5 separate regions of the Homo sapiens genome follow, and all the other regions are linked to region 2. The links come from fine-mapping of genetic effects on gene expression. A gene starts in region 2. Each other region holds a variant in brackets. All regions are shown on one strand. Distances are between the middles of the regions.

Evidence for each region. PIP is the estimated chance that this variant, and not a neighbour inherited with it, causes the effect.
Region 1: its variant is fine-mapped to the expression of LPAR3 in whole blood (TOPMed, PIP above 0.99).
Region 3: its variant is fine-mapped to the expression of LPAR3 in whole blood (INTERVAL, PIP above 0.99).
Region 4: its variant is fine-mapped to the expression of LPAR3 in unexposed skin (GTEx, PIP above 0.99). The same link has a PIP of 0.9 or more in minor salivary gland and sun-exposed skin.
Region 5: its variant is fine-mapped to the expression of LPAR3 in blood mononuclear cells (TOPMed, PIP above 0.99). The same link has a PIP of 0.9 or more in ileum, monocytes after R848, spleen and whole blood.

Annotation. Positions count from the first base shown.
Region 1 is chr1:84,851,291-84,857,433 of GRCh38, reverse strand. The region is part of intron 2 of LPAR3 (lysophosphatidic acid receptor 3); the gene reads left to right. Among named protein-coding and RNA genes, the nearest start is that of LPAR3, 39 kb to the left of the region's middle. RefSeq lists an enhancer at 2,762-3,011. The variant A/G (reference allele first, on the strand shown) is at 3,040.
Region 2 is chr1:84,890,371-84,896,513 of GRCh38, reverse strand. LPAR3 (lysophosphatidic acid receptor 3) reads left to right here and starts at 3,308. Exons shown (of 3, transcript NM_012152.3): 1 at 3,308-3,498.
Region 3 is chr1:84,859,621-84,865,763 of GRCh38, reverse strand. It overlaps LPAR3 (lysophosphatidic acid receptor 3), which reads left to right. Exons shown (of 3, transcript NM_012152.3): 2 at 1-379. Among named protein-coding and RNA genes, the nearest start is that of LPAR3, 31 kb to the left of the region's middle. The variant C/T (reference allele first, on the strand shown) is at 3,351.
Region 4 is chr1:84,839,638-84,845,780 of GRCh38, reverse strand. All of the region lies in intron 2 of LPAR3 (lysophosphatidic acid receptor 3), which reads left to right. Among named protein-coding and RNA genes, the nearest start is that of LPAR3, 50 kb to the left of the region's middle. The variant A/C (reference allele first, on the strand shown) is at 2,940.
Region 5 is chr1:84,923,781-84,929,923 of GRCh38, reverse strand. MCOLN2 (mucolipin TRP cation channel 2) reads left to right here. Exons shown (of 14, transcript NM_153259.4): 13 at 245-366; 14 at 3,203-4,341. The coding sequence ends at 3,239. Among named protein-coding and RNA genes, the nearest start is that of LPAR3, 34 kb to the right of the region's middle. The variant G/A (reference allele first, on the strand shown) is at 3,283.

The DNA of each region.
Region 1 (6,143 bases), 39 kb after region 2:
GTTGTGTGACCTTGAGCAATTCATCTCACCTGTCTGTGCCTTAGTTTTTTCATCTGTAAGAAAGGGATAATAGTATCTTTGGCATGGTGAGGTGTTGAGGATTCAATGAGTTAATACACATAAAGCACCTAGCATAATGTTTGGTACATAGTAAGTACTAAGTAAATATTAGCTACTCTTAGACCTTAGTTTGATTCTAAAGAGCCATGCCCTGTATTCAAGCAGAATGCCCTTTTATGTCCAGTTCTATCACCAAGTAACCTGGACACAGGGACTAGAAGCCTACTGTTGGTGCCATCATGATGGCAGATTTTATAAAATGGACAAGTAGCCAAGAGGAAGCTGACCGGGTGTGCTTTGCAGAGGCTGCCTTGACAGATGGCAAATGGTACCAGCTCTGTTACTGGAGACCCAGGACAGTCTGAACACATGGTCACCACAGAACTGAAAAGCTCTGTGCTTACATTGCTAGTCCCTATAAACCACCCTCTCCCCTACGAAATTCTGTTAATGATTCCTGTCTCTGACAGATGATCTTTCCATTAATAATTCATTTCACTTTTGCAACATTTATGAATAAAACATTATAAATGAGACCCTGGCCACAAAGCATTAGCTTGACAAGAGTCCTGTGATACAGCACCAACATCTTGTGTATAGAGCTCTATTATAGGATGGTCCTCATAAGAAACTGTCCCCCTCTTGCTAACAAATCCTTCGAGAGTAGCTAGTTCGTCAGCTGCTATTATCACCTTTGCTAGGATTGGAAAGTTTGCCCTGTGACTGAAAAGAGTTGGGACCAAAACACAGGCCTTTTGGTATTATTCATAAGCTTCATCGATGAACTGTCCTTACTCCATTAAAAAAGAGAGAGAGAGAAAAAAAAAGTACATGTGCCTAAGTTCGTGAGGAATTCTGAAACATTTGTTTTCAGCTTCTGTGGCCTTGTAGTTGCTTCTGCAACACAGAAGCCTGCTTTCAATGTTTACTGCCTGCATGCCTTAGTAATCAAATATCTGTTAAAATAGAAAAAAAGAAAACAGTTAAAGCTTTGCCTTAAGAAATGCTGAGTGAAATGAACAGATTGTTGGCACACAGGGGCTCTCTTGTTGCTGTGCAGAGAGTCATATCAGAAGGAGGGTGATTCTTTTCAGAGTCAAGCCATCCAGGCACCAGTACTCAGTACATTGAGTCCGGGGGTGTTCGTACTTTTGTCTTGAAATGGCTAGTCCCAGGAGCACCTTTGTCACAGATGATTTTCCTGTGTGCTTCATGGCATTGCTACAGAGGCCTATGGGAGGGAGGCATTGTTTTCAGGGCAGGCCGTCAATCGGTGGGTGCAAAAATGCAGTTGCCACTCAGTTGCTGCCCCTACGCTGCTGTTTGACACATCCCTTCCTGTTCTGACGGGGAACGTGGGGACTGAGATGACCTCAGTGTCTGATGCTGGAAGGAAGACAGCTTCAAATTAAAAAAGAAAATCCCTCATATGGCACTCCATCCCACTTGTTCAAATGCCATCTTGACACCTCTTCCAACACCACATTTCCAGGAGTCTGTCTTCTTTCTTCTGTCTCTGCCATATGTAGCCATTTGTTACCTCAAGTCTGGCTCTTGGTTCTTTCTTTTCCCCCCACGCCACTGTTTCAGACACCTCCCTTGGCAGTCAGTTTAGAAGTGCTTTTCCCAAATCAGTGTTCTTGTTTCCAATGTAACCACTGCCCTGCCCTCTTACTTCTTCCATTTCCTCTGGTCCAGACCCCTTCAGTTCCATTACACCAAATGCACTCAGCTTCTTTTATTCCCCTCTCATGCCCCCTTCTTCAGAACTTCTGGCTTTTCTTCTTTTTAGAAAACTGAAACCTTCCTCTTAAGCTGAAACAAACAATTATTGAATATTTTCTGAGTGCAAGGTGGAGAAACATTTCTCAAATTTGACCTCTTTGAAAAGAAGGTATAGGGAGAGGTTCCAGTACCCAACTACATCCAACCCTCCTGCCAACACCCAGCCTCCTGGAAGGTTTCATGTTCCAGAACTCAGGAACACCCTCTCTTAGGGCTTTGATTTCTGCCAAAGGAGAAATGTGGTCATCGTCTGTGACTCAGGCGTCATATCACTGGGCTAATTCAACATCTGGAATAGTATGGTGTGTGCTGGCCAATGGTAGAATTTTATCAAATTCCATGTTAACATTGTACTTCGAAAATTTCAGCTGGGGACTACTATGTTCATTGTGTATCTATGGCAAACATGTTGGGTGGGAACTGGGAGTAAAGGGTGTTTGCTGGAATTATGCCCTGTCGTGGACCTAGGGATCAACACAGAAGCTGGGATAAGGGGTAAGGGAACCAAGAGTTATTGGCAGGAGTCATCTTCCCTCCTGCACTGACAGTTGTCCCTCCAGCCCAGCCACCTGCTCTCCCTCACCACCAGATTGTTGTTAACTCTGCAGAGTATGTGGCGGAAAGATCCCATTACCTCAAAGAATCAATACTGTTGAGAGATTTGACCAAGTTCACTTTGTAAATTACTGCAGCATTGTGGCTGCAGCTCTGGACCTTCTAGTTCCTGCTTCTTCTAGTGGGTCCCAACTTCTTGCCTTGGCAAAATATACCTGTCCTTGGATGCCTGAGTGACAGTGAATCACAACAGGCGTTGTTTTCATCAAGTCAGAGAATTTACTGCTCAGTGGTGAACCTATTTTATTCTTTATGTTTTTTTCTGCATTTTATATTTTCTCATCATAAACATTTATTGACTACCTTGCTAGGTTTTAGGCAGTGTACTAACTATGAGACATGGCCTCTACCCTGAAGGCACTGTGAATCTGTGCTTGCTCTAGTGGTTTATGGTTGTCAGGAAATGACCAAGATTTATGAGTCAACGGTTGTGTCACATGAGAGATAGATGACATGGAGGCAGACCTGTTCTGTGTGGCTTTTCCTGTGTGTGACTAATAGAGAACCCTATTTCCAGGCTTATTTGAGGAAATGAGAAATGTACTCAAAAAAGATAACTGAAGGCACAAAGAAATATAC[A/G]TAAGGGCTGAATGAGGGGGCCTAGGCTGAAAAAATGCTGTGGGCTTGGATGGTCCATGGAGGCCTCTTTGAGAAGGTAGAATATAAGCCTGATTTCAGTGTAACAGGTGGAGAGGAAAGGGGAAGGCATTGCAGATAGGAGGAAAGGCAGGGTGGGAGACAGGTATACATATGTCTAGGGAGGCCATGCCAGGGCCGTGGGTAGAAAGGGGAGACTGGGCAGACTGATTTCTGGAATAAGGAGTTTGAATAGTAATGACAATCTGGTTTGAGAGACATAAGGGAGCCAGAGACTGGAAGGCCTTGGATCCTAGGGTCCTGTGGACTTCATTGTCAGATATCTAAGAGAGACTAGGCAGATAACATGGGTATATGAATTGGGTCTGGAGTGGATATAAGGAAATAGGGAGGGGTGGTGCCTGTGGCTAACTAGACAGATCATGCCCTGTGTAAAGACAATCAGTTTCATTTTTTGTTAAAAGACCATGCAGGCCCAATTAAATAGGCCTGTGGCCAGTCTTCAGCCCACAGCTGAACTGCCTCATCTGGCAAGAAAGAGCCCATGTAGGATCTTGAGTGTTGAGAAGGTGGGAGTTGCAAAATGCAAAGCAGGGTTTTAGAAAGATGAGAGGTGGGTTGGAGAGGGAGAGATCACTTAGGAGACAATAGGAGAGTCCCCAGGATCTGGGGATGGGAGGTAGCTCAGATGCCAGAGAGAGGCAGAGCTGGTCCATCATGGTAGATGTTGTAGGAAGGCACATTTGTCAGCAGCAGCTAGAAGGCCCATCGGGGCTGCAGGGGAGGAGAAGAGAAGCAGGCCAGTGGGGCGTGAGCTTATGGAAATCTGGCAGGAGGCAGAGAGAGAAGAAGCAGGAAGAGGGATCCATCATGGGAACTAAAATTCAGAGGCAGGGTCAGGCAAGAGCAACACTTAATCAAGCCTTGCCACTTTCCCCAAGGTCTTTGAGCTTTGCCCTGTCTCATTCCCCAGCTGACCTCCCAATCTTTGCTTTCTTCATCTGGCATGAACTCCCTTAATTTCCCTTCCTTCATATCTGAGTCCACCTGCACAGGTCACATCCTTACCATCCTAGCTTTTCACTAGGGCTCATTCCTTCCAGCCAGGAGCTGGGGGATCCACGAGCCTACTCTTGTCCTTATTCTTGCTTTCCTATGAGCTTGATCGTTCAAAAATGTAAGCCCTGACCTTAACTCCCCTTCTAACTACTGCTCTGTCTCTCCCTCCCTTCACTACCAGACTTTTGTTCTTGGTTTTTTTTTTTTTTTCTTTTCTTTTCTTATTTAGAGATGGGGTCTCCCTATGTTGCCCAGGCTGGTCTCAAACTCCTGAGCTCAAGCGATCCTTCTGCCTCAGTCTCCCAAAGTACTGGGATTATAGGCACGAGCCAGTGTGCCCCGCTGATTTTTTTACTCTTGTTTATTTTCTTTTCTTAATACTTCAAACCGTAGTAAGCTAGCTTCTTCCTATACTACTCTAATACTACTGTGTTTGATTAAGCCACCATTGTCTTCCTAGTTGCCAGATTTAGTGATCTACCTTGACCTTCCTGTTATGTGCCTGCTTGCTTCATGCTCCCTTTGATAGTGTCTTCCTCCTTCTGTTCCTTCTCTGCTGCTTGTCCAGTCTCTCCCATTTCTGACCATCTCTGAAATGCCCTTTGTTCCTTCTCCTTTGGGTCCCCAAGTTCTTTCCAGGTGATTTTACTCCTGCAGCTTGAACCAACCCCTCCATGTGAACGTCTCTCAAAGCAGCCTCTCCATCCTCAGCCTTTCAGGAGATCCCAATCTCTGTTTCCAGCTGCTGTCACGTGCACACCTGGATGTCCTGGAGGCACCACAAGCTTCAGCTGCCCTGCAGACCTGCTCTACCTGTTAAATAGGATCTCTGCAATGGGTTTCATCTGCCTTGCCTTCCAAGCTGGAAGTCTTGGTAGTACCATCTCTCTCACCACCTATAACCAATTAATCACCAAATCTAAAATTATTCACCAAATTGGCTGGGTATAGTGGCTCATGCCTGTAATCCCAGCACTTTGGGAGGCCGAGGAGGGCAGATCACGAGGTCAAGAGATCGAGACCATCCTGGCCAACATGGTGAAACCCCATCTACTAAAAATACAAAAATTAGCCAGGCGTGGTGGTGCACACCTGTAGTCCCAACTACTCGGGAGGCTGAGGCAGGAAAATCGCTTGGGCCCGGGAGGCTGAGGCAGGAAAATCGCTTGGGCCCAGGAGGCAGAAGTTGCAGTGAGCTGGGATTGCACCACTGCATTCCACCCTGGTGACAGAGCGAGACTCCAACTCAAAAAAAAAAAAAAAAAATTAGTCACCAAATCTACTTCAGTGGTGTCTCAGATCCTACTACACGCCTTTAGTCCAAGACTTGCTGTGTGTTGCTAACGGTCATCTCCGTCTGGATTCCCTCCTCCAGCATTTTCTTGCTCCAGGCCTTCCCCCACCACCAGCTGAGGCATTTTCCTAAAAAGCACAGTTAGCTCTGATCTTTTCTTGTCTACTCTTCCAAACTGGATAAAGCCCAAATTAGTTGGGATTACAAGGCTGCTTTCCCAGTCCTGTTCCCAGCCTCCTTTTCTATGCACTCCCCTCACACAGCCCCTGCTTCTGTCATGCCAAGCTTCTCACTGTCCTGCACATGTGCAGTGACTGCCTGAGGCTCCTCGAAGTTTTCTGTAGCATGGCAAACTCCTGTCCATCTTTCAAGATCCGACTCAAGAGTCTGCCTTCTCTATGATATTTTCTCTGACTCCCCAAGGCAGAGTTGATTATCCAGTGCTTCTGTAGTATACTATTTATATATTAAAAGAATTAACTCATAAAAGTAACCCACTCTATTAAAATTTATTTGCTAAGTGCCTCTCTTACCCGACTGTGAGCTTCTCAGGGACAGGACTGTGTGTGTGTGTTTTCACTTGTACAGTGCCTGGCACACAGTAGGCACTCAGTAAATGTTTATATAATGAGCCAACAAACATGCTTATTGGGTGGGACCTGGGGTGGGAACTGGCAGTTAGTGGAGGGTCTGGTCACAAGAACAAAGGTAAGAGGGACTGGGAAGGAGAACG
Region 2 (6,143 bases):
TTCCTATTTTCTGCTTGAAACTTCCCCTTGAGAATTACAATATTTGCCTACAGTATCACACTAGCCAAGCTCACACGTATGCTAAAGTAATACTCAAGTGAATGTACATGAAATTACAATGAACCAGAAACCGAGTAAAACAGGGAGCTTACCTTAGATTCTGTTTTTTCAACATGTTGGTTTTTATTTTTGATTTTTTTATTTATGGACTATTTCCATGACTTTCAATTGAAGTCACTCATATACTACTGAGAGATACTCCACAGGGCCACCTACCATTCTTGTACTCTCTTTGCCAGTAGTTTCTATGGAGTTAACTGTTTGCTCAGTCTTTTCTCAGAACTGTTATTTCAGGTACCACTTTCATCTCTCACATTACAGCTCCCATTCCACTTTCTCACACTATCCACCTGCTGTAGGCATCCTCATTGCTAATTAGTATAGATGAGCAAAATTCAGCAGAGATTCAGTTCAGATACTTCCCAAAGTTAAGAACAACACATCTGTGAATTCCTGCCCATATGATTGAAGCCCCAAGGTGAGCTGGGGACAGAGGAACATGGCCTCTTTCCATAAATCCAGAGAGGAGGAAGCCTTGCCTGAGTCCCACATTGCTTCTCACTGTGGAAGGAGGCAGGCAGTTTTGTGTTTTTTAAACTTACTTTGTTTTTTGAGACAGAGTCTCACTCTGTCACCCAGGCTGGAGAGCAGTGGTGTGATCTCAGCTCACTGCAACCTCTGTCTTCTGGGTTCAAGCGATTCTCTGGCCTCAGCCTTCTAAGTAGTTGGGATTACAGGTGCACACCACCATGCCTGGCTAATTTTTTGTATTTTTTGTAGAGATGGGATTTTACCATGTTGGCCAGGCTAGTCTTGAACTCCTGGCCTTAAAGTGGTCCACCAACCTTGGCCTCCCAAATATCTGGGATTACAGGCGTGAGCCACCACATCCACCCCCAATTGTTCTTTCAGCCATCACAATTTCATTCTATCAAGCACTGTGGAATGCCCCTTTTACCTCCTTATAGAAACAACGTTATAACTCTTTGTGTTTCCAGGAACACAAAACACAACACTTGTATACATGAAGCTGACTAGCAAATGTTTGTTGAAAGTTTTGAATGACTTTCCAGCCAGTGATCTCTAAGACAAAATACACCCTCAGCCTTCATCCTTGCCATTTTGATGTTAATTTTAATTTGGCTTTGCTAATAAAAACATTTCGGTAGAGAAGTGAGACACCACAGGCCAAACAAGGATTTGTAGGAGGTTCTGGTGGATAATCCCTGGGCTACCTTCTAAAAACTAGGAATTGGGGGCCACATCTTTCTTTTTAGTTGTCGTTTGCCTCGTCTTTTCTTTTCCTGCTTCTCCCCATAGGTGTTTGTTTGTTTGTTTGTTTATCACTGCTTTTCCTCTCTGAATCTGTTTCTCTGTAACACCTTCTGGCCTTCCCCTCACATCTGACCCATCTAGCTGTTAAAAACCATCTATCTGGAAAGTCTCTTTCCTTTTGCAACACAGCTCCCCATGCCCTCTTCACTTTCCTCCTTTTTTAAGGATTCAGATTCAACTCTGTGGGATCCCTGTTCTGCTTTGCAATTACCTCGAGTTCAGGAAGTTCCCAAGGTACAACATAATGCAACATAATGTGTTTCCCAAGTGCCTTTGTTAGTAAGTTGTTTGGATTCAGAACAGATTTTCCCAGCAAAAGAAGGCTCTTAGTGGTGTTTACAGTCTAGCCTGCAACATCTTACTCAACATACTACACCTTTGTTGCGTCAAGTATTCAGTAAATGCTGGTGGTTGAGTATTTCTGTGTTTACCAGGTTGCCCTTCAGCACCGTGATGTTTGAGCTGAGCTGTTCTCTCCCTTGACAGAGAGAGCTCTTTCCGACCCCCGCCCCTCCGAGACGGAGTCTTGCTCTGTCGCCCAGGCTGGAGTGCAGTGGCGCGATCTCGGCTCACTGCAACCTCCGCCTCCCAGGTTCAAACGATTCTCCTGCCTCAGCCTCCAGAGTAGCTGGGATTACAGGTGCGTGCCACCACGCCCGGCTTTTTGTATTTTTAGTAGAGACGGGTTTTCACCATGTTTGCCACCGAGCTTTTTTATCATATGCAAAGCTTCTGCTTGTAAAAGTAAACACATGATCTTTCTTTAGCCCTAGCTTCGCAAGTTGTACTTCTCTCTACACAGTTCAACTGCAAGACACCGCAATAATTTTCTGAACACTTAGATGAAACAATAATTTTCACATGCTGATGAAAACTTAGCTGTAGCCCCGGGGAGGTTTGAGGCACATTAGGCTATTATGGTCTATAGGATAAGACCCACGGAGTAAGGGACGTAACCTTATTAAAACATCCTCTGCAGAGAAAACAGAATCTCTTTGATGGTAGGGGACAGATTATCTAACAGGTTGTTTGCAAGGATGAGGTTCCTAGCTGGCACACAGAAGGGCGCAGTATTAATGGTGAATGCAAGATGAATGAATGAACGGATGGATGGATGGCAAAGGGTCACAGGAAGACATCTGGGCACACAACTCTCATTGCTTCCTAAGGGCCTGAAGTCTGAGTGGGAAGGACTTCACCTCACAGTATTTCCTTTTTGTAAGGTCACCAGGAAAGCACAACTTTGAACATTTCTGTGACTTCGTTATTGCTTTGCAGAATTCAGAGAGAACAATGCCTTCATGACATTTGTTTTACTTTGCATCTTTCTTCTTTACTAAAGGTGGGTCAGTGGAGGTTTTATATTTCAGCTTTGAAAAACAAAGTATCCAGGACTATTTGCCCCAGGAGGCCAAGAAACCTCTTACAAGAACCTTAAATATTGTTGGTTGCCTCTGGGGGCTGTCCGCACCCTCGGGTAGCTTTGGGGTTGAGGTTTCCAGCGTTAGGTCGGGCTTGGAGTAGAGCCTGCCTCCCACGGGGGTGGTGGGTGTGGGCTGCACTTCCCGCAGCCACTTCAAACAAATCTCTGAGGACAGAGGGGCAGAGGGACTGCGTTCTAATACGGAGCTCCGAGGTATGGCTCCGTGAGGCTTGTGGGTACTAGCGGTCCTTTAGTGGGCGCTTTTCCCTCTCGGGGCCGGCCGACCACCCACCTGGGGACGATCCCAGGCAGGAACGCGTCTGCAAGAGCGCTGCCCTCCCGCGGCTCGCACGGGCCCCTTTGAGCGCAGCTCGCGGCCTTGCAGGTTGGGGACGCTCTCCAGTGGGAACGTCGAACGCACCCGGCGGGGCGGGGCGGGGCAGGGAGGGGCCGCTGTCCCTAGGTCCCTCCCTCGCACCGCCAAACTTTCCTTTGGCTCTGGACGCGTCGCAGGGGTCGCTGGAGAGGAGGCGCTCCGCCCGCCCGCCGCGTCCTCCGCTGCTTCTCCGCGCCCGGCTGGAGCCCGGCGCCCGGTCGCCCCGTCGCGCTCGACCCCGAGGGCATGCGGCAGCCGCAGGGGCCCCCGCTCCCGGGCTCGGCGGCGCGGGTGAACGTGAGCGGTGAGTGAGGGTCCGGGCGCAGGGAGGGTACCCCGAGCCGCAGTCACCAGGGCGTGCGTCGTGGGGAGGCCGGGGCGCAGCGGCGCCTGCAGGGCTCTAGCCTGCGGCTTTTCGGGGTTGCCTGGCGTGCAAGCCTGGGCTCCAGACCCACTCCAAACCCCGGGACAAGACTCTCCCGGCGGGTGTATGGCACAACTTGCTCTTTTCCCACCTTTTTCCCCGCTAGGAGCAAAAAGCAATCTAGATGCAAAATCGGCGTTGCGTCCGCTGCTGAGGGCTGGCGGGCTGGGCGCAGAGGCCAGGAGAGCGCCGCACGGGTTGCGTCTGCCTTTGCACACGTGGTTCTTTCCAAACTCAGTCTCATTGCCATCGATGGTGATTAGGAAACTGGGGTTCTCTCGTGAAGCCTAGGGATATAACATTTTTCAGCCTCCAGTTACATCTGGTACTGTGCTGTGTCCGCTGGGGAACAGCTTGAACCATGTGCAGGCTTCTAGAGATTCGGGAACTAGTAACTAGCAACACTGTCGGGGTTGTTTGTTCAGGGTATGCCCCCTCACCACCACGAGACAAAAGTGCTTTTGTTCTGTAGCAGAGTTACTTTATTGCTTTCCCTCAACAAGTTGCAGCTACACAAAATTGCTTAGAAATTCCGCACGCATGTAATTTGAGGAGTGACTGTGAATATTGGAAACAATTTAGTCTTATTAAGGTAATCATTAAAATGGCCCTGAAAAGCATTTGTAGGTTAGTTTTTATTTATTTATTTATTTATTTATTTATTTATTTATTTATTTATTTTTGAGACACAGTCTCGCACTATCATCCGGGCTGGAGTGCAGTGGCGCGATCTCGGCTCACTGCAACCTCCGCCTCCCAGGTTCGAGCGATTCTCCTGCCTCAGCCTCCCTAGTAGCTGGGATTGCAGGCGCCCACCACCACGCTAGGCTAATTTTTTGTATTTTTAGTAGAGACGGGGTTCCACTGTGTTGGCCAGGCTGATCTCGAACGCTTGACCTCGTGATCCACCCTCCTCAGCATCCCAAAGTGCTGGGATTACAGGTGTGAGCCACTGCGCCCGGCTAGGTCAGTTTTTTAAACTGAGTAATTTCCACGAAATGTTTCCCCCGTAATTTGTTATTGTCATTACAACGCTTTTCTTCCTCCTTTTCCTCCGAAAGTAGCATTACCTGGTCTTGAGATGCCGTTTAGAAATAAAGGGCTTTCTCACGGTTCCAACTTAGTCTGTATCAGAGAATAAAGTAAATGTCAATTACAGACAGACAATCAATCTCCTCTTTACAAATTCCATGTACCGCACAACGTTTCATTAATGCATGGACTTTTGTATCGCTGAGAAGAGTTGCTGGATTTTCCATTGATCCATCAACAGTTGCTAACCCTGCTTTCCATGGGCAGTGGATCTGATATTTAGTGGCCTGAGTCCAGTAAACAGAGTTTTCCTCTTTTTGGGACAGAAGTGATACGGTTAGAAACACACACCTTGGCTCTGTTAACCCCAGGCTTGTCTAAACAAACTGGACTATACTAAAAAGACGAGCGAGCAAACCCTGCCAGTCAGAGTTGTGTACTTGAGATAAGCTTCCAGAGTTGTCTCTTGTGCCTTGAGACAGCAAGGAACTAGTTATCCTGTGGAGATCTGGACGTCTAACTATTTGGACAACACTTACATTGATTGTCACTATCATATAACTAAGAAAATAGGTCATTTTGGCAAAAATTTTTTCTTTGTCTTTAGAATTTGAAACTTTGAGGTTTTGATTTAATTACATATGACACTCCTCTTGTCTAAACCTTTCAATTGCATTTATCAACTACCACTCTTTTTTTTTTTATCAGATCAGACCTATTTTAGATATCTTGCTGTTCTGCAAGATATTTGTTAGAACAGGCCTGCATATGTTTTCTATGAATGGAGACTGAATTTAAAACATTAAAGTATGAGATTGTTTTTCATGTGTGTTCACCGGAATCTGTTTAAGAAACTACAGCATGTTAACTCTCCATCTCATTTTTCAGAAACACACGTGCACAGTGGAAGAAATGCACACACAGCATTGTAGCCAGGCAGCACCCAGACACACACTCTCAACATCACTTATACACACATGCCTAAGGCTGGCTGCTTCTCCCCCAAGTTTCTCAGCCTGCTGCTGAGGAGCAGCAGTGCGTGATAACTTAAGACCCGCCTCTTATTTCTTTGGGCTGGGGCAAGGGGAATCACTATAACTGAAATGGGAATTACTGTACCTCAGATTACCCATTAGCCATTCTCCTTGGAGTATACATTAGTTCAAATGCTTTCTGGCCTGTGATTATACCCAACAGAGTGGTTAAGTCTGTTTGCAGGATTCTAGATGGCAGAGACCAGGCCCAAGGCATTATTAATGCAGTATAAATGGAAGACCAAGGCTTTGCAGTCAGACCAGCTTTTGTTCCAGTCCAAGCTTTGTGACCTTGGGCACATAGCTTCACCTCTCTAAGTCTTAATTTCCTCATCTGTAAAAATGAAGATTATATCCATCTCCCAAGATTAAAAGAGAAAGCACTGAGCATGGTCTCTCATATACAGGAAGTACTCCTTAAATGCTGGTTGCCCTCTTTTCCTCCTAGATAAAAATTTA
Region 3 (6,143 bases), 31 kb after region 2:
TTGCTGGTTATCGCCGTGGAGAGGCACATGTCAATCATGAGGATGCGGGTCCATAGCAACCTGACCAAAAAGAGGGTGACACTGCTCATTTTGCTTGTCTGGGCCATCGCCATTTTTATGGGGGCGGTCCCCACACTGGGCTGGAATTGCCTCTGCAACATCTCTGCCTGCTCTTCCCTGGCCCCCATTTACAGCAGGAGTTACCTTGTTTTCTGGACAGTGTCCAACCTCATGGCCTTCCTCATCATGGTTGTGGTGTACCTGCGGATCTACGTGTACGTCAAGAGGAAAACCAACGTCTTGTCTCCGCATACAAGTGGGTCCATCAGCCGCCGGAGGACACCCATGAAGCTAATGAAGACGGTGATGACTGTCTTAGGTAGGTAAGAGGACCCAAGCAAGCCATCATTCCCATTCATTCAGCAAATCTTTACGGAGCATCTGTGGTGTACCAGGCACTTACTAGGCAGTAAGAATGCAGCAGTGAACAAGAACGGACATAAATCGCCACCCACCTGGAGCTTACACTCTAATAAGGAAAGATAAAATAAGTATTCTAATGGGGGTAAACAAATTAAGTGAAATAAGATGAGTCTCCTGTGGAAAAATCAATCAGGGAAGGAAGGAAAAATAAAGCAGGGAAGGGAGCTGGAGAGTGCTAAGCTAAGCAGGTATCGTTTGCACTTTAAAAAAGTGTTGTGAGGGATGCCTGGAAGATGACTTTTGAGCAGAGGTGTGAAGGCAGTCAGGGAGTGAACCATACTGGTGTCTGGGGAAGGGTGTTCCAGGTGGGAGAAGCGGTAAGCACAGGAGCCCTGACCAGCCAGGAAGCCACTATGGCTGCATGGATCGAGCAGAGGGAGTAGGAGAAGATGAGGTCAGGGAGCTGGTGGGGTAGGGGATGGGCTACTCAGATAATGTAGGGTCATGTGGTTATAAGGACTTCAGCTTTTCATTTTTTTTTCTTTTTTCTTTTTTTGCCGGAGCCTCACTCACTCTGTCACCCAGGCTGGAGTGCAGTGGTGCCGTCTCAGCTCACTGCAACCTCCACCTCCCGAGTTCAAGCAATTCTCCTGCCTCAGCGTCCCAAGTTGCTGGGATTACAGGCAGCGCACCACCATGCCCAGCTAATTTTTGTATTTTTAGTAGAGATGGGGTTTCTCCATGTTGGCTGGGCCAGTCTCAAGTGAGATGAGAAGCTATGGGAAGGTTTTAAACAGGGGAGTGACATGATCTGACTTATATTTTAATGGTATCTCTCTGGCTACTGTTTTAAGACACTGCTGTAATGAGGCAATAGCAAAAACAGGAAAATTGTTTAACCTATTTATGCCTAGTGTTCCATTATTGGAATGCTAAGCTTGTGGGAGTTATTTATATCCTACTGCTCAAGGTCATTGACAAGTTCTGATTTTTCACAAAAGAAATTTGCAACCCCTGGCATAAATGGGTTAATAGAGTATTTCAGTACTCGGGAGAGATCACCATGGCCAGATGGTAGTTGAAGGTGATGGTCAGATTCTGTTTTTTTGTTTTTTGTTTTTTTTTTTTTGAGACAGGACCTGGCTCTGTCATCTAGGCTATAGTGCAGTGGTGCAATCTCAGCTCACTGCAACCTCCACCTCCTGGCCTCAAGTGATCCTTCTACCTCAGCCTCCCAAGTAGCTGGGATTACAGGCCTGTGCCACCAGGCCCGGCTAATTTTTGTAATTTTTTTAGAGACAGGGTTTCACCATGTTGCCCAGGCTACTCTCGAACTCCTGAGCTGAAGCCATCCGCCTGCCTCGGCCTCCCACAGTACTGGGATTACAGGTGTGAGCCACTGCACCTGGCCAGATTCCAGATATTTTTTAAAGGATTTACTGATGGGTAAGGTAGAGGGGAAGATGAGAGGTGGAGGAGAAGGTGGGGAATGTCATTAACCAAGATGAGGAAGACTGAAGAGGAGGAGGTTTTGGGGGAAGATTTGGTTTTGGACAAGCTAAATTTAGGAACCTATTAGACATCCAAGGGGTGTGGCAATTTTATTGAGTGGACAGTTGGATGTTTGACTCAGGAATTCAAGATTTAGGTCTGGGCTGGAGATGTACATTTGAGAGTCCTGGGGGGAAACTGGTATTTTAAATCACAGGACTGCGTGAGCTCACCATGAACGTGAATGTGGATATGAAGGAGAGGAGGACCAAGGATGGAGCCGTAGGGCAGGCCCTCCAGTGTAAGGAGGTCAGGAGGTAAGGGGCAGCCAGCAAAGGAGCCCTAGAAGGGATGGAAAACCCAGGAGACTCTGGGGAACTAGAAGAAAGAGAAGAAGGCAATCGAGGAGAGGAAGCATTAGCAGTGTTGGTACCCCTGAGAGGTGGTGTAAGACCAGGTGTTGCTGGCCTTACCAAAGTGGTGGACTTGTGCTGATCTTGAGATCATCACATTTGGTATAGCCAAGAGCCTGATTGGAGTAAAATTGAGAAAGAAAGGAAGAGCCTGGGCAACATGGTGAAACCCCATCTCTATGAAAAATACTAAAATTAGCTGGCCATGGTGGTGCATACCTGTAGTCCCAGCTACTTGGGTGGCTGAGGTGGGAGAACCGCTTGAACCCGGGAGGTTGAGGTTGAGTGAGCTGTGATCACACCACGGCACTCCAGCCTGAACAACAGAGTAAGAGCCTGTCTTAAGAAACAAAAACAAAACCAAAAAAAAAAAAAGGGAGGAGAGAAAGGTTGTGAGCCCTGTACCAAGAAGACATGTGGTTTCGTAGAATTTTCCCTTTGTTTTATTTTCTCTGAAGTAGGTGGCCTATTGCCCCACCTCCCCAGTTCTAATTCTGGGTTACAGGTAGAATTTGTAATGTGTGGGCAGACAAGAACTTTTGTGGTTTCACAGAACTTGTCTTGTAAGGCAGAGAGGCCGTTTCTCACTGTGTGTGTGGCTGCAGCAATGGGGACTGTTGCTGAGAGAGATTCAGGAGTACATTTCTGTCTACTCCTTATGAGAAGGAATTATAAAATGAATTATCAGGTAGCAGTTCATAGTGGAGGATACAGTATGTGTGGTGTGGTATAGAAACCCTCACAATGCCTCTAGGTCCTGAAACTGCTAGTAAGATTTGGGGGTCAGCAGACACAGAGTGTGATTGTTAAAATAATTTCAAACTGAGGATTTATTTAACAAATATTTATATAGTGCTTAATATGTGCCAAGCATTGTCCTAAGTGTTTTTACAAACATTAACTTATTTAATTCTCATGGAAACCCTGTGAGATAGGTGCTACTATTATACCCATTTACCAGATGGAGAAACTGAGAGTTTAAGCAGTGTGTCCAGTCACTCAGCTGTTAACCAAGACTCACTG[C/T]GCAGCTGGCCTCTAGAGTTCACATATTTACCACCATACTCTGTGGCTACTTGTGATTTATCTGGACTTTTTACGCTCATCTTTTTGTCCTGTCTTCTGCTTTGACACCGTTGACACATTGATAAGAAAATGGACAAGAACAAGAAAAAGAGGGTTCACATTAATCGGCATTTCCCCTCGAGCTGGAGAAGATATTGATGTTTTTGATAAAGAATGAACTTTGGTATTTACAGATAGTGTCAATGAACTGTGCTGCTGTCCCTGCTTAACTTGTAGGCATAATCATTTGCTTGGCTATGTGTCTTGAGAAATTACCCGCCTGCTTAAAAAGAAAACTTTCTTTTCTCATCATATTATAATATAGTATACAGCATGATAGAGACAAGGATTCCAAAATCCTAGGTGGAGAGAACAGGACCCTTTGTGAGACAGTCATGGTCACAAACTTCAGTTTTGTATGTAATTTTGTCTGCAACAGTTACGGAAGGGGTTAAAAGAAAGGAGCTGGGAGGTTTTGGCAGGTGTGGTATTGACTAAGAGAAAAACCAGAATGAACAATTAAATTTCCAAGTAGGATAAGAGAAGTCATGCAATTGAGATAAGACAACATTGGGGAATTGGTTAATGGAAGAAAGACAGTTTGGTGTCAAGGACCTCAGAAGTTCCTTAATGGTAAGACAGAGGAACCTGGTGGAAGACAGGAAGTTCAGGGACGAGGGAAATGAAACTCAAGAGCTAGGTGGTGTAAGGCTGAAGACTTCCAGCTCCTGATTTCTCTAGATAACAGAAAGATTTGGGTTTTACCCCCAATTCTTTCATTTTCTACAAGGGTGATCTGCAGCACATCAGCTCATCTTTTCTTGGTTAGATTCCCTCATCAGGTGGCATAGACCATCTTTAAGTTCTTTACAAGTTACAAAGTTCAATTATCCTTTATGACAGTTAGTAACCAAAGGTGGGAATGAAAAGGAAGAGTGGAGAGAGAGAGAGGGAGAGAGAGATTGAGAGAGAGAATATGAATCTTGTGGGGCAGCACCAAACATTTCTGTGGATCCAAGCACAGAGCCTCTTTCCTTGACAGCAGCACCTACCACAGTATCTTCCTAGGGAGAAAGCCCCCAGTTCCCTACATACTACATGTAAGAATTCAATTGCCTGAAACAAGCATCTCCCAAATGATAGTATATTAGAAAAATCAACAGTGCTGGCATTAACCATCATCTAATCACTGGTTCTGATTATGTGGAGATGAATAGCTTAATACTCATGTTTTTAATAATTGGAGGATTTAAATGTCTTTATGATAAAATGCTAAACATTTCCATTTACTCCTTGATACATATTTTGTAGGAAAGATTCATTTAAGATTAAATCCATCCAGGTGTGGTGGCTCACGCCTATAATTCTAGCACTCTGGGAGGCCGAGGCGGGCGGATCACTTGAGGTCAGGAGTTTGAGACCATCCTGGCCAACATGGTGAAACCCCGTCTCTACTAAAAATACAAAAATTAGCTGGGTTTGATGGTAGGCACCTGTAATTCCAGCTACTCAGGAGGCTGAGGCAGGAGAATTGGTTGAACCCAGGAGGTGGAGGTTGCAGTGAGCCAAGATGGCGCCCCCGCACTCCAGCCTGGGTGACAGTGAGACTCCGTATCAAAAAAAAAAAAAAAAAAAAAAAATTAAATCCTAAAGTTTCTTACGAACCCTCTTCTTTTACATATTAGAAAGTCAGTCTCTAAGTACATATTAACTGTCTATTAAACAGTATCTAAGAGGTACATGGTTGCATGAATTCAGTGAGCTTAATCTTATTTCAGAAGAGGAAAGGATGGACAGGGGCTGTTGAGTGTGGAGACGGCTTCTTAATGGGCTGGGATGTAATCTGGAAGGATAGGTGGGATTTGCATGGGCTGGAGGAAGACACATTCTAAGAGGGAGAAATGGCATACTCAGAAGTGTGATGATAGAAACATTTAAAGCTTGTGCATTACCATGAGGAAGGCCCCACAGAGTACAAATACTTGCTGTGGTGCGGTGGAAAAATAGCTCACCTGTGAACCAGCAAAGTTTAGTTGGCTATCCTCTTTGGAAGGAGAGTAGACCAGATGACCTTTGTGTTCCTTTCCAGCTTTGGGATTTTGGTTGAACACAAAAGCTAACAGCATGGGGATTCAGACTCTTTCCTTGAGGGTAGTGGTGGTAGTGATGATGGTGATGTGAGTTTTCAATCTGTGTGTGCATGATTGGAAAGGCATCAAGGCATCATGTTCCCGTTTCAGCAGCCCTGAGGCAAAATGCTTGCTCACTTCTGGGTTAGAATGTGTGATGGGGCCCTTTATGTGAAAAAAGTTGCTTATTGAATGTTCTCATTGAAAAGACATCGGAGACATACGATCCTGCTTTCCAAAGAGCACCAAGGCCCTGCCTAAGAAAGGGTTTTGAAATCTTACTTGTCAACAAGCCTAATCAGCTACAGCAACCAAACACACAAGAAACCCCACATGGAAACGTCTAATTTATTGTCAAACAACACACCATGTGAACTGTGCACACAGAAATGTTTTGTTATTTCCCAGAAAATGGGCTGGACTTTGCTTTATTTTGCAGTGTCTTAAAATACAAGAGAAAAGAAAGAGGGAAGGGACTTGCAAACCATTCTTTTGAAGTCTTCCATGAACCCTCCTGTCCTTTAGTGATGTTTTTCAAACTGTAAGTTTTGATGCACTGATGAGATTGTAAGCAACACTTTTTAAAATGACATAAAAAGAAGAGAAAATGTCAGAGTGTGTTGCA
Region 4 (6,143 bases), 51 kb after region 2:
AAATACATGTTGAGTTTATCAAAGCCTGCATTTTCTTTTCTTTTTATAAAACCTTGAATATATATTCTGGAGAGGTTTTCCTAAACTGTTCTGATTTCTAATTTGGAGTGCATAAAAAGGTTTGAGCGTAATTAAAAAGATTAATTGGTTTTGGTAATGATGGACCAACACAGTGCAGGATAAGAAACATACAATTTTTTCACTGCAGTTTTCTTTTCTAGTTCAAAAGGTGCTTATTACTGCTCCTGACTATAATCCTAGTCCCTTTCATGTTTGACAGATTTATAGTTTACAGGGCCTTTATACCTACCTGCTCTGAGTAGTGTGGGAGATGGAAGAGGAATAAAGTGTGGGATAAAGTCTGAGTGTTTGATTCTAGTTCTGCTTTCCAAGAAAGAAATTCGTTTTCTCTACACCTCAGTTTCCTCATCTGTAAAAGTCGTAACACAAATCCCTCCTAGAGTGTATTCTTATGAGTCAATGAAATACAGGTAGAATGCTAACAAGAAGCTTAAACAATGTATATAATGGCCACTTGGAATTAATTTAGTGATTTAAAAATGCTTTTCAATGTTCTTCCCATTGATTTTATTTAGCCATCCAATAACCCTAAGCAGTAGAAGGAAAAGCACTTTTAGCCTCATTTTATGGATCAGGAATAAATAAAGCCTGGAGGAGTTACCAGATTTGTTAATGTGAACATTGGGCCCAGAGCTCAGAATTTAAATAGTTTTATAAATATTGAAGTGCTTTGGCACTAGAATTTAAATGAAGTTTAAAATCTTAATTGTTTTTGTTATTGTGGATGTAATTTGCTTGTTTCTAAAATGTACACATTGTAGAATATATGATTTAGAAAGTGGAAGTCCCCCTTAGTTCTCTCTTTAGAGATTTTAGAACCACTGTTAACAGGTTAATATGCTGGCTTGCAGACACTTTCCCTGCAAATAATAAAAGACTGTGGCGGGGTCGGGGTTGTATGTGTGTATAGTACTCACAGAGTAATGATTTTTGTACAGAAATGTGTTCTTAATAGTCATAATAGTTCCCCATCTTTTTATGCTTGACAACATACGAATATTTTTTCATGTCTGTATAAACATATGTCTAATTCTCTTCAGTGGCTATATAAGGCTACATTGTATTACATACTGATTGATGATATTTTATGAGCTATTTCTAATTTTTTGCCATTAAAATATCCCTGCAATGAGGGTCGTTTTATATACATCTCCAAGCATTCCTGGGTCTATTTTTGTGAATTGTATTTATTCAAGAATTAGTAGGTCAGGAAAATGCATGTTTAAAATTTTGTTAAGCTATCTCTAAATTGTCCTTCAACAGATTGCATCAATCTCCACTCCCACAAACAGTGCAGTAAATCTTTCTCCTTATGCTTTCCATCAACATCAGGTTTTTATAATTCACACACATCTAAATGAAACATTTCTGCTGCAGCACAAGACATTTGAAAAGACCAGAACTATCTAGCTGTCTGTCAGTGCCTGTCAGCAAACCAAGGGCAGGAAGCATAGAAGAGTAAATTAAAGCTGACAGGGCAGTGAGCACATGTTAAGCTAGAAATTGAGATATTTGGCCACCATTCTTATTCATTCATTCATATAACATTTGCTGAGGTCTGCAATGGGCCAGGCCCTGTTTAGGCCCTGGGAACACAGTGATGAGCAAGACAAAGTCCCTGGCTTCATAAGCTTACATTCTAGTGCAGGTGATCCATCAACAAATAAATTAGAACAGAATGTCAAGAATTGTTAAGACCTCTGGTAAGAAAGTGGGGAGAGAGATAAGGGTGGTAGGATGCAGGTAGGGAGGCTGCTTTAGACTGGGTGGTCATGGACTTCTTAAACAGAAACCCAGATGCAGGGTAGACTGAGCCCACTGGCCACCTGGGAGAGCCCATCCAGGTAGAGCTGGCAACAGCAGATGCAAAAGGCCTGAGAAAGGAGCCAGCTTGATGGGTTCCAGGAATAGCCCCAAAGCTGCACTGACTTTTGATTTACCGGAGAGGATAATTGGGCTACTTACTTTCTTTATAGAATGCCATGTTTGGGCAAATGAACTTGTGAAGCACTTAGATCTCTTTAGAAAAGTGATGTTATTAGCATAGGGTAGTATTTTAACCAGTAAAATCCATCAGCGAGTCTCTGCCAACACCCAGCAGGTGTGGCGTTTCACGCAACCCCTCTCCCTAGCTCAAGACTGTCCTTGTTGAAACTTATACCAGTGCAGAATAGACCCACTGCACCTCCAGCTTGGAAAAGTCTAGACCAACACACTTTCATGACTGGCAAGTCCTTCTTCTGCTGCTTTGCCTTGTAAGAACCCAGTTCATTAAATGTGTTTTAATACCATTGGAGAGAAGAAATCACAGTTGAAAAAAGAGGTTTGTTGGAAGGTGGTCACAAAGAGAAACTTTCACTTACCAAGCCTGGGAAGTTTCTTGGATGTCTAAGAATAGTACACTACTACCCCCTACTCAGGATTCCAGTATTGGCCTGAGAGCAGGAGATGAGGCATAGCTGTGTGGAGGGCAAAAGAGGACAGGAACAAAAGAAGAAATGGAGTTTTAAATGTGAAGGTGAAGACAGGAGTTAGATTTTCTGCAGGCCAGACCCTCCACAGGCGTTGCACTTGTGGCTCAGCCCTGTCCCCACCCCAGGCTTGATTGACTTTTAAGCAGCATGAAGACCAAGGCGGAAGCTCACTTTCTCTTCAGTACTTGGTCCTCCCCCTCTCAGACCTCATCTTTTAAGGGGAGGATTGAAATTGCCTTGACGGAATGCTTACAGGGACTGAAGCACTGCTTATTGGGTGGCTTTCATTTCCTGCAATCTAATTCTTCCATGTCTCAACATGTAGGGAATCTTTTTTTTTCTTCTTTGCTCTCCTCCAAGAGTCTTATGCAAGAGAGCTCAAAC[A/C]AGAAAAACCTCCTTGTGAACAAAACAGCACCCCTGGAAGACTTTGAAATCCATGCCAAATGTGATCTTGAACTTGAAATTCAAACATAGGACTGTTATGATTATCTTCTACTTCTGAAAAGAACTCCCAAGTCTACCCTTATTTGCCTACATAAAGAAAAAATGTGCTTACTTGTAAGTACTTTAGCAGATAAATTTTTTCAGAAGACAATTTTTAAGAGTGCTATGAATAAGCAGACTGATGAAGTTTATAATTTGCACTAATACTTTTTATTTTATCAAAATGAAAACTAATCTACTTAAGTGCATTTCTTTTAAAACATCTTTTCAAACCTATAACTTATGGAGCTAAAGGCAATGTAAGGAAAATGATTTCTGCTCATTCATTTGCATGATTAAAATTCAGCTTGCATAACCATACGTTATAGGTTTGTTTCAAACCCTGGAAACCTTTTGGCTTTTGACCAGTGACTGAATTTCTTTTGTTTGGGACTCTAGAACTATAGCAAATGATTGATCCGATAGTGGTGGTTATGACTTATCTGGAAGGAACTGTGTGTTTCAATTTCTTGCCCTATACTTAAATGTAGAAGTCCATTCAATGTATTAACTATACTTCTGATTGCAAAAACAAGAACCAACTCACGTCAGCTTAAGTGAAAAAGGAGAGGAACACTAGTGTCTCATACAACCCAAGGGTGTGGAGATTACCATGCCTAAGGAACATCCTGGAACTAGGTGTTGGAAAGCCCTGTGTTATTCAGGAAATTCTTTCTCTTCACTTCTCATCTGAGTTTCTCTCCATGTGCTAATTTTATTCTTCCCCTACAAACTTTTTTTTTTCTGTCCTGCTTCTTCTGCTTATGTTGTACCGAACATGGCAGCCAGTAGCTCCTAAGTGTGTATATCAAGGTCTCTCTTTCTTTCTTTTGCAAATTTTCTGGGAATGGACTCTGCTGCTCCAGACTGGAATCATATGCCAACCCTTATATCATTCAAGTCTGGCCAGAGCTGGGGTCCAGGGAAGGACTTATGAGCAGACCACTCTGCCTCAGGTGCTTTGAAGCTAACAATTTTGGTCAGGAGTGAAATCACATTTGTCAGGAGCCTCACCTGTGTTACCGTATGAATGGAGGATATGTGTTTGTGTAGCCACACACGGGAGTTTGATTGAGAGGGGTGTGCAGGTAGAAGCAGTTACCATAGAAGAGGGAATCTTTGACTTGTAGATGTCTATTTTGTTTATTTATTTATTTTAGTTTTTCTGGTATAACATTGAATAGAAGGTGTCGATTTTAATCTCAAAACATGAAGTTGTAACATTAAATGACCTGAAAGTATAGACATAGAAGCTTGGAGACTGACAGGAACCACTGAGAATTTCCTAGACTCTCATGGGGGTTTCATTCACTTTTCTTTTCCTCCAAAGGACAAACTCCACAGCCTAATCCAGGGACTGTCCAGATTTTTAGTTGTAATGGGTTTTTTTGTTTCAAAATGTTTTTAATAATGAGTAAAGCAAACCTTAATTGTCATAAGGGGCCGTCGGTTGTCCTTGTAAACCTCTTAAGTAAATACAAATTTTCATGATTATGCTGTGTTTTAAGTAGGATTTAATATGTATCACAAAAATGGGAAATGGAGTTTCGGGAATTCATTTTTGATCTGTGATCTAGAAAGAAAGGATCCCTCAGTGAATACTTATTATTTTCATTGCCAAAGCCTGGATAACTGTTGAAAACTGAAGGACTGGTTACCACTTGAGGTAAAAGGTCTGGTAACTGTTTCACAAGGAAATTCCAGTGAGCCTTTCAATATGTTGTAGACATGAGGATCAAGGCTTTGGCTTGCTCAGAAGAAGGTCTACAGTGAATAAAACTTTTCTGTGTTTCTGTATCTTCTTTGGTAAAAACCGGCCACTGTTTTCAGGAAATGGGGTTTCTATTCCAGTAATCTTTGAGCAAAAGACTGTGTCCCTGACAAGGGATGCAATACTTAATTACACTACAAAATCCTGGCACAATGTTGGCTCCTTTGATTATATCTTTTCTTAAACACAATTATTGTTTTAAAGAGGCATCAGCTTCACTTTGAAGAATATACAACTTAATCCCCTGTCAAAGTCTGAGGATGCAGTTTTTTTTCAATGTCAATGACTAAATTGTTCAGAAAAGTTTCCTCATAAAATGGCATTTCTTTGGTCCTAAACATTCTCAAAATCTGAGGAAACATTTCCTTGTAACTTTATTATAAATTTGGTCCTTATGCATAAAAGTTTATTGTTTGTATAAGTAAGTGGGCTCTGACTGATACTTCTGGATTGTTTCCTCTTCAGGGTTTGCAAGGAGCCAACTCATTCATCTGCCATTGTTGGTTTTTGTTATTGTTAAAAGTCTTCTATAAGATTTTTTAAAGGAATCCTTAAGCTAGATATTTGATGCTTTGTAACAAATTTTGGGGTGATGATATTTAATTCTAGGACCAGCACATATTTGACAATTGTCACTTTATCTTGATCAGTTCCTCTTGCCTGTGAAATTGCGTTAATGATACTCATTTAGTCTTACAAGTGCTTTTGGTTTCTTCATTAACACTAATGCTAATAAAAGCAAGCACTGGTCAGGCATGGCGGCTCATACATGTAATTCCAACACTTTTGGGAGGCCAAGGCAGGAGAACTGCCTGAGCCCAGGAGTTTGAAACCAGCTGGGCAACATAGTGAGACCCCCATCTCTACAAATAAATAAATAAATAAGCCAGGTGTGGTGGCACACACCTGTGGTCCCAGCTAATTGGGAGGCTGAGGTGGGAGGAGTGCCTGAGCCCAGGAGTTCAAGGCTGCAGTGAGCTGTGATTTTGCCACTGGGCAGCCTGGGCGACAGAGTGACACCCTGTTTAAAAATAGAAGCAAGCACTTATATAATTGTATTTGCCAGGAGCTTAAATAAGCACTCTATGGATATTTACTTATTTAATTTTTATATGAAGTATGTATTATCACCATTCCTATTCTAAGCAGAGAAGTTAAATAAGTTACCCCAGGTCACACAGTAATTGGAAGAGCTAAGATTTGAGTGCACTTTGGTCCTGGGATGTGTACCTAACCCTTGCATCATATTGCACAGTGTTGTCATCATTTATTTTATTTTATTTTATTTTACGTATTTATTTATTTAGAGACAGGGTCCTGCTCTGTCATCCAGG
Region 5 (6,143 bases), 33 kb before region 2:
TCTCCCTGGCTCTTCTCTGCTTTCTTTCTGAAGTTTTTCTTTGGATTGTTCTCTGTTCCCACAGTGGCCCTGCCTTGGTGTTCTGGGACTGACAGATTGATTCATCATTGTAAATATCAGTTCTTGGATCTGAGCTAGCAATGTGGGAGAGTTTTATTTTAGCAAAGGTGGGCTTGGTTTGTTGACAAAAGAGCAATTTCTCATGCCTTATAAATAAGGTAACAACATTGTGTACTTTCTAAAGAAATTCCAACAGAATGGGTTTCCTGAAACGGATTTGCAGGAATTCCTGAAGGAATGCAGTAGCAAAGAAGAGTATCAGAAAGAGTCCTCAGCCTTCCTGTCCTGCATCTGCTGTCGGAGGAGGTCAGTATCATGTTTATTCTCCATGCTCCTGAGATGGGCTGTTCTGTTGTCTTAAGAAAGAGCCCCTCCAAGATTACCATTACATTCAGAGACCAGCTTATCATGGGAAATAATTCACCTTTCTTTTCTTTCCTCCCACTGAAATTGGCTTTAGAAATGAATTATTTCTTCTAAAACAGGGTTATGTAGAAAGCTACACGATGTGATTGGAATCTCTTAGAAATACTATAAGACTCTTAAGAGAAGGCATAAATTATGTCCTTAAAGTCAAGAGGCTGAACTCTTAAGTGGCCCAAGTAAGAGGTCAAAGCTCTTATTTTTAGAGGTGAAACTCTGGGAGTGTCAGAGGTGTTTTCCCTTTTCACAGTATGTGGTACAAGCAATCTTTCTTGATGAGAGCAGGAAACTTCCTTGCGAAGAGGCTGTCCAAGTGCTTGCTTATCCGTGCACACCAGTAGCTCTTCCTTGCCTAGCTGTGCTTTGCCTGTTGTTCGTCAGGACATGTAGAGAAATGGTCTAGACCTCAGTGGACAAAGCATATTACATAGTGATTTGTGGACTAGAATGGGGTCAGGTGAAGACAATTTTTTTTTTAATGTGCCTATGTTTGCTTTCATCTGAAGTCAGGGGTGCCAGTTTGTAACTAAAAGTATACCCTACATATGTTTTTTCTTTTTGGAAGGACTCTGTAACCCAAATTCCTGAAGGAAGCTATGAGAACATAATTGCTATTTAAAACCACAGGATGCATTTTTCTGTTAATCAATTCATACAGCATCTTGGGACTTACAATGATATGACTGAGCAGATCCAGAGAATGTCTGGTAAATAGAAAATGAGATCTGAGAAGAGTTGTTTTCAGAATCACACCTTTTTTTCTCAGAGCATTAAATTGTTGCTGTGAAAGCTGGGATAAAGGAAATTAATTTTCTTAATAGGCAGCTGCCTCCTAAGAGGTACCTTGTATAAGGAAAGTCTCTCAAAATCTCTTTTTTACTATAAGGGGGATAAACTTCATTGAAAAATGTAGTCATGAATTCTAAAAAGTAAACGATAGGTCTTTGGTGTTTGGACCTTGGTTTGTGCCACACAAAGTCCTGGGAGGTTGTTAAATGTTTTGTCATGCAGCCCTATGGAACAAGTGAAAGATTTAAGGCGTGGACCCCAAGACGTTTGGGTAAGATTGGGTCTGAGTGGTGAGACGCAAGGAGCAACAGCAGCAGACCATTTGCCCTAAAGTGTGCTGAGGGTTGTTGAGAAGATGCATGGTGAGACGGAGGGTCTGCCCCTCATGAAGAGTGAAAGAATTTGAGGGAACAAGAGAGCCCACCAAGGAGATCAACTGAAGAACTAGGATGATGAAAGTTTTGAAAAAGAGGATATCAAAAAACAAAGACAGGTAGCTGTAACTATGTTTGGCCAAACGATGGTCCTGAGTGAAGTCAGCTATAGCAATTTCAGTGGAATCATCAGACCAAAGCCTAGATCCCAGGGGGCTTGCATGGACCCTGCAGAGTGAATGAAGGGCCTAGGCTGTGATGGAAGGAAATGGATTGTAATGGGGCCTTGAGAACAAGTGATGGCTTTGACTCCATCTAAAATTAAGTATAGCTTGATGTGTTTAAAAGCTAGGAATGGGGCTGGTTATGGTGGCTCGTGCCTGTAATCCCAGCACTTTGGGAGGCCAGGGCAGAAGGATTGCTTGAGCCCAGGATTTTGAGATCAGCGTGGGCAATGTAGTGAGACCCCGCCTCTTAAAAAATAAAATAAAAGCTAGGGACAGAAGAATGGACTAAAATTGAGGAAGGCTGTGAATGGAGGCTAAAGATGAACATAAAGATTCATCTCTGCAAAGATTGGTTTTTGTGCCCCCTGTCTGGTGACCATGACAGATGACACCTGCTATCCCAGTGCTGCTTCCTGCAGAGCACGGCTGTGGTCACTCTTCAACAAAGCAGTCCAACAACCAGCACACATTTGATTCTCCTTTGAGTTTTTGACAGAGCCTCTAGCCTGAGCATCAGAACACCTGGGTTTTCATTTTGGACACTGCCATTAACCAAGTGTGTCCTGTGACCTCTCCTAAACCTCTTAGATGGACCAGATGACCTCTGAAACCTCTTCCAGTTCTAAAGCGATGTGGTTCTTTGGAGAGAGATGCTTGGTTGAACAGATGCAGAGTTAACCTTTACCTTCCTCTATTGCAGTGAAGGAGGAAAATTGGCTGTTCTAGTAATTTATAAGGCCTTGTTAGCGAAGGGACACAGAGATTCTTTTTTTTTTTCCAGAAACAAACCAATGTATTTATTGAGTAAAACCTAAATGTAACATATATTTTTCTTTTTTTTTTTTTAATTTTACTTTAAATTCTGGGATACATGTGCTGAACGTGCAGGTTACATAGGTACACATGCGCCATGGTGGTTTGCTGCACCTATCAACGCATCATCTAGGTTCAGCTCTGCATGCATTAAGTATTTGTCCTAATGCTCTCCCTCCCCTTTCCCCCTACCCCCCAACATTTCCCCGTGTGCGATGTTCCCCTCCCTGGGGGCATGGAGGTTCTTAAGAGACAGGTGACTCCTCACAGTGTTTCCAAAAGCATCTGCTCAAACCTCAAACAGTGTACATTGCCTTTATTTATTTATTTACTTATTTTTTCTGAATGTTGGTAAATAATCAGAATACCTTGCCTGTCTTAATTTTTCTTCCTCTTCTATGTTTCACTCAACATGTCTATAATCTACGGGCCTAGAATATAGAGTATTCCTATTGCTCCTCAAAGATGTTAAAGTATTGTATCTTTCCTCTTTTCTTCTTTCCCTTTCTGTTACAGGAAAAGAAGTGATGATCACTTGATACCTATTAGCTAAAGTTCTGCTAAAGATGATTAAAGTTCAGGCATCCTTATCCAGC[G/A]GCTGAGCAGAGGAACCCCAAATGACTTGGACAAGCAGTTCCAAAATGACTCTCTTATTTAATTGTGGAGTGGGAAAGAGGACTCACAGTTAGCCAGCTGACCATGACTGAAGTTCCAGCTTTACTTTTTATAAACTTGAATGATAAAGAATAGACCATGGGCTACTACTGGGCATTAGTGCAATATAACAGCGATAATAAAATTCTCTATTAGTCTGTTAATTTATGACATGATCTCGGAATGGAAAAAGATCATTTCAGAGTGTGCGAAATAATAGTCTTTAACCATGTAATTAAATATGTGTGTTTATTGTCAAATAAGGATTTGTTTTAAAGGTGATTCTTGGGTTTGAAGACATTTGTTAATTCATGGTCTGTACAGAAATGAAGCTGGTTGCAATACCAATCTAGAGAGTCCAAGCTGGTGAACTATTAAGCTGTTTAAAGATCACCCTTGGCCTGGCACAGTGGTTCACACCTGTAATCCCAGCACTTTGGGAGGCCTAGGCAGGCAGACTGAGCTCAGGAGCTTGAGACCAGCCTGGGCAACATGGCAAAAACCCACCTCTACAAAAAGTACAAAAATTAGTCGGGCGTGATGGCAGGCATCTGTAGTCCCAGCTACTTGGGAAGCTGAAGTGGGAGGATCACCTGAGCTCTGGAGGTGGAGGCTGCCATGAGCCATGATCGTGCCACTACACTCCAGCCTGGGTGACAGAGTGAGATCCTGTCTCAAAAAAAAAAAAAAATCACCCTTAAATCAACAAAAAGACCTCATGCTCATGCAGTGGACATTTCTTGGCCTGTTTTCCTGTGGGTTTTCTTCAGCATGATATGAAGCAACTGTTGGCATAGCCAGTGGGATAAATAAGAAATGGAATCATTTGGCTGCCTCGTCACTTGTGCTAATGGTCAGTTGTACACACATGACATGTGGAAGTGACCTGTAGCAGCGGTCACTCATTTTAACAATTGAACTCTGCTGGGTTGGGTATTTACCTTTGTCTAGAAAAGAAATATGATATATTTTCTCTAAATAAATTTATTTTCATCATTCCATATGGCATTCTTACTATTTTATGCATTGTCTCTAAACAACTACCTAATGAAACATTCAGATCACATCTCTCTTAACCACTTGGTCTCCAAAAGGGATTTCCCAATTTCTTAAAAGCAGTGAAGGATATACAGGGGCTAAGATATAGAAGTTATTCAATAAATATTTATGATGATAGCTTGAGAGATGAAGATCACTTCATGCATAGACTTATTTCATACCTGAGCTATCTCAGTGGCCAACTATTTAAAGTTATTGGTGAAGAGGAGAATTTGAATTAAGCAGGACCCTCCTTCCAGGGCTCTTCCTCTTTCTCCTTGGCCTCAGTCGCCCTCCCCACAAGCCCCTACCCAATTTTCCTTCTCATGTCACCTTCCCCCTCCTTGCTCTGACCCCATCTTCATATGCCTGCACCAACTATAGGCAGGGAAAATCATGCAGTTAATACCATTAAAGTATATAAGAGAGTAGATGACTCATGTCTACACACAGAGTACTTTGCTAAAATTATTTTAAACTTTCTTTTTTACAAGATATGTGAAGAGTTATGTTTGATTTTTAAACTAAGACACCATTAAACTGGTGGTTCTGGGGTCATTTGCCTGACCCAAGAATCAGATACGTAATTGGACCACTTGTTAACTTCTGAGTATATTGTCATATACTTAGTTTTGTCTCTGAAAAGAACTGCTATTTTTTTTCTTTCTCTCTTTTTTTTTTTTTTTAAACAGAGTCTTGCCCTGTTGCCAGGCTAGAGTGCAGTGTCATGATCTTGGCTCACTGCATCCTTTGCCCCCCAGGTTCAAGCGAGTCCCCTGCCTCAGCCTCCTGAGTAGCTGGGACTACAGACATGCACCGCCACACCTGGCTAATTTTTTGTATTTTTTTAGTAGAGATAGGGTTTCACCATATTGGCCAGGATGGTCTTGATCTCCTGACCTCGTGTACGCCCGCCTTGGCCTGCCAAAGTGTTGGGATTATAGGCGTGAGCCACCACGCCCAACCCAAGAATTGCTATTAACATGGTGAAACCCTGTATCTACTAAAAATACAAAAATTAGCTGGGTGTGGTGGCAGGCGCCTGTAGTCCCAGATACTCAGGAGGCTGAGGCAGGAGAATCGCTTGAATCCGGGAGGCGGAGGTTGCAGCGAGCCAAGATCCGGCCACTGCACTCTAGTCTGGGTGACAAAGTGAGACTCCATCTCAAAAAAAAAAAAAAAAAAAAGCTTTCATTTGTTCTGCAGCTGTGACTGCCATTTGAATAGAAGATTAATGATGGGTTTTCATGCTCATATTATTCTTCTATTGGCTTTCATGTTTTCTTTTATTTATTTTCCCTCCAGCTGGACAAAACAGTTTTAGAAAGAAAAATGTTTTTCAGGGTTAGCTCACATCTATAGAAACATTGTTTTCTCCCTTTTTAATAATGTTAAACAATTGTCACTTTATCAACTGTATTGTTATTTGGATTTTATTGAACAATGTTGTCTCATAATTCTGCTAATAGATGCATCTGGGATAAATCATTTTCTCTCTTATCATAGGCCTCCACTTAGAGGGTTCCCTGTGAAAGTTAGGAGACACATTCTTTCTGCCTGCTGGTTTCATTCTGGGATCTCCAACCCTTGAATTTAACTCCTTGGCTTGTGGTGACACAGTCAAAACCATATACAACATCTTAAAGCTTTTTCACTTGAGCTGGTAGGAGAGAGTGTGGGCATAAGAGCCATCTAGACAGACTTGAGTTAAAATTCCAGCTTAACCTAACTTTAAGGCCCTGAACAAGTTACTTTCTTCCTCTAA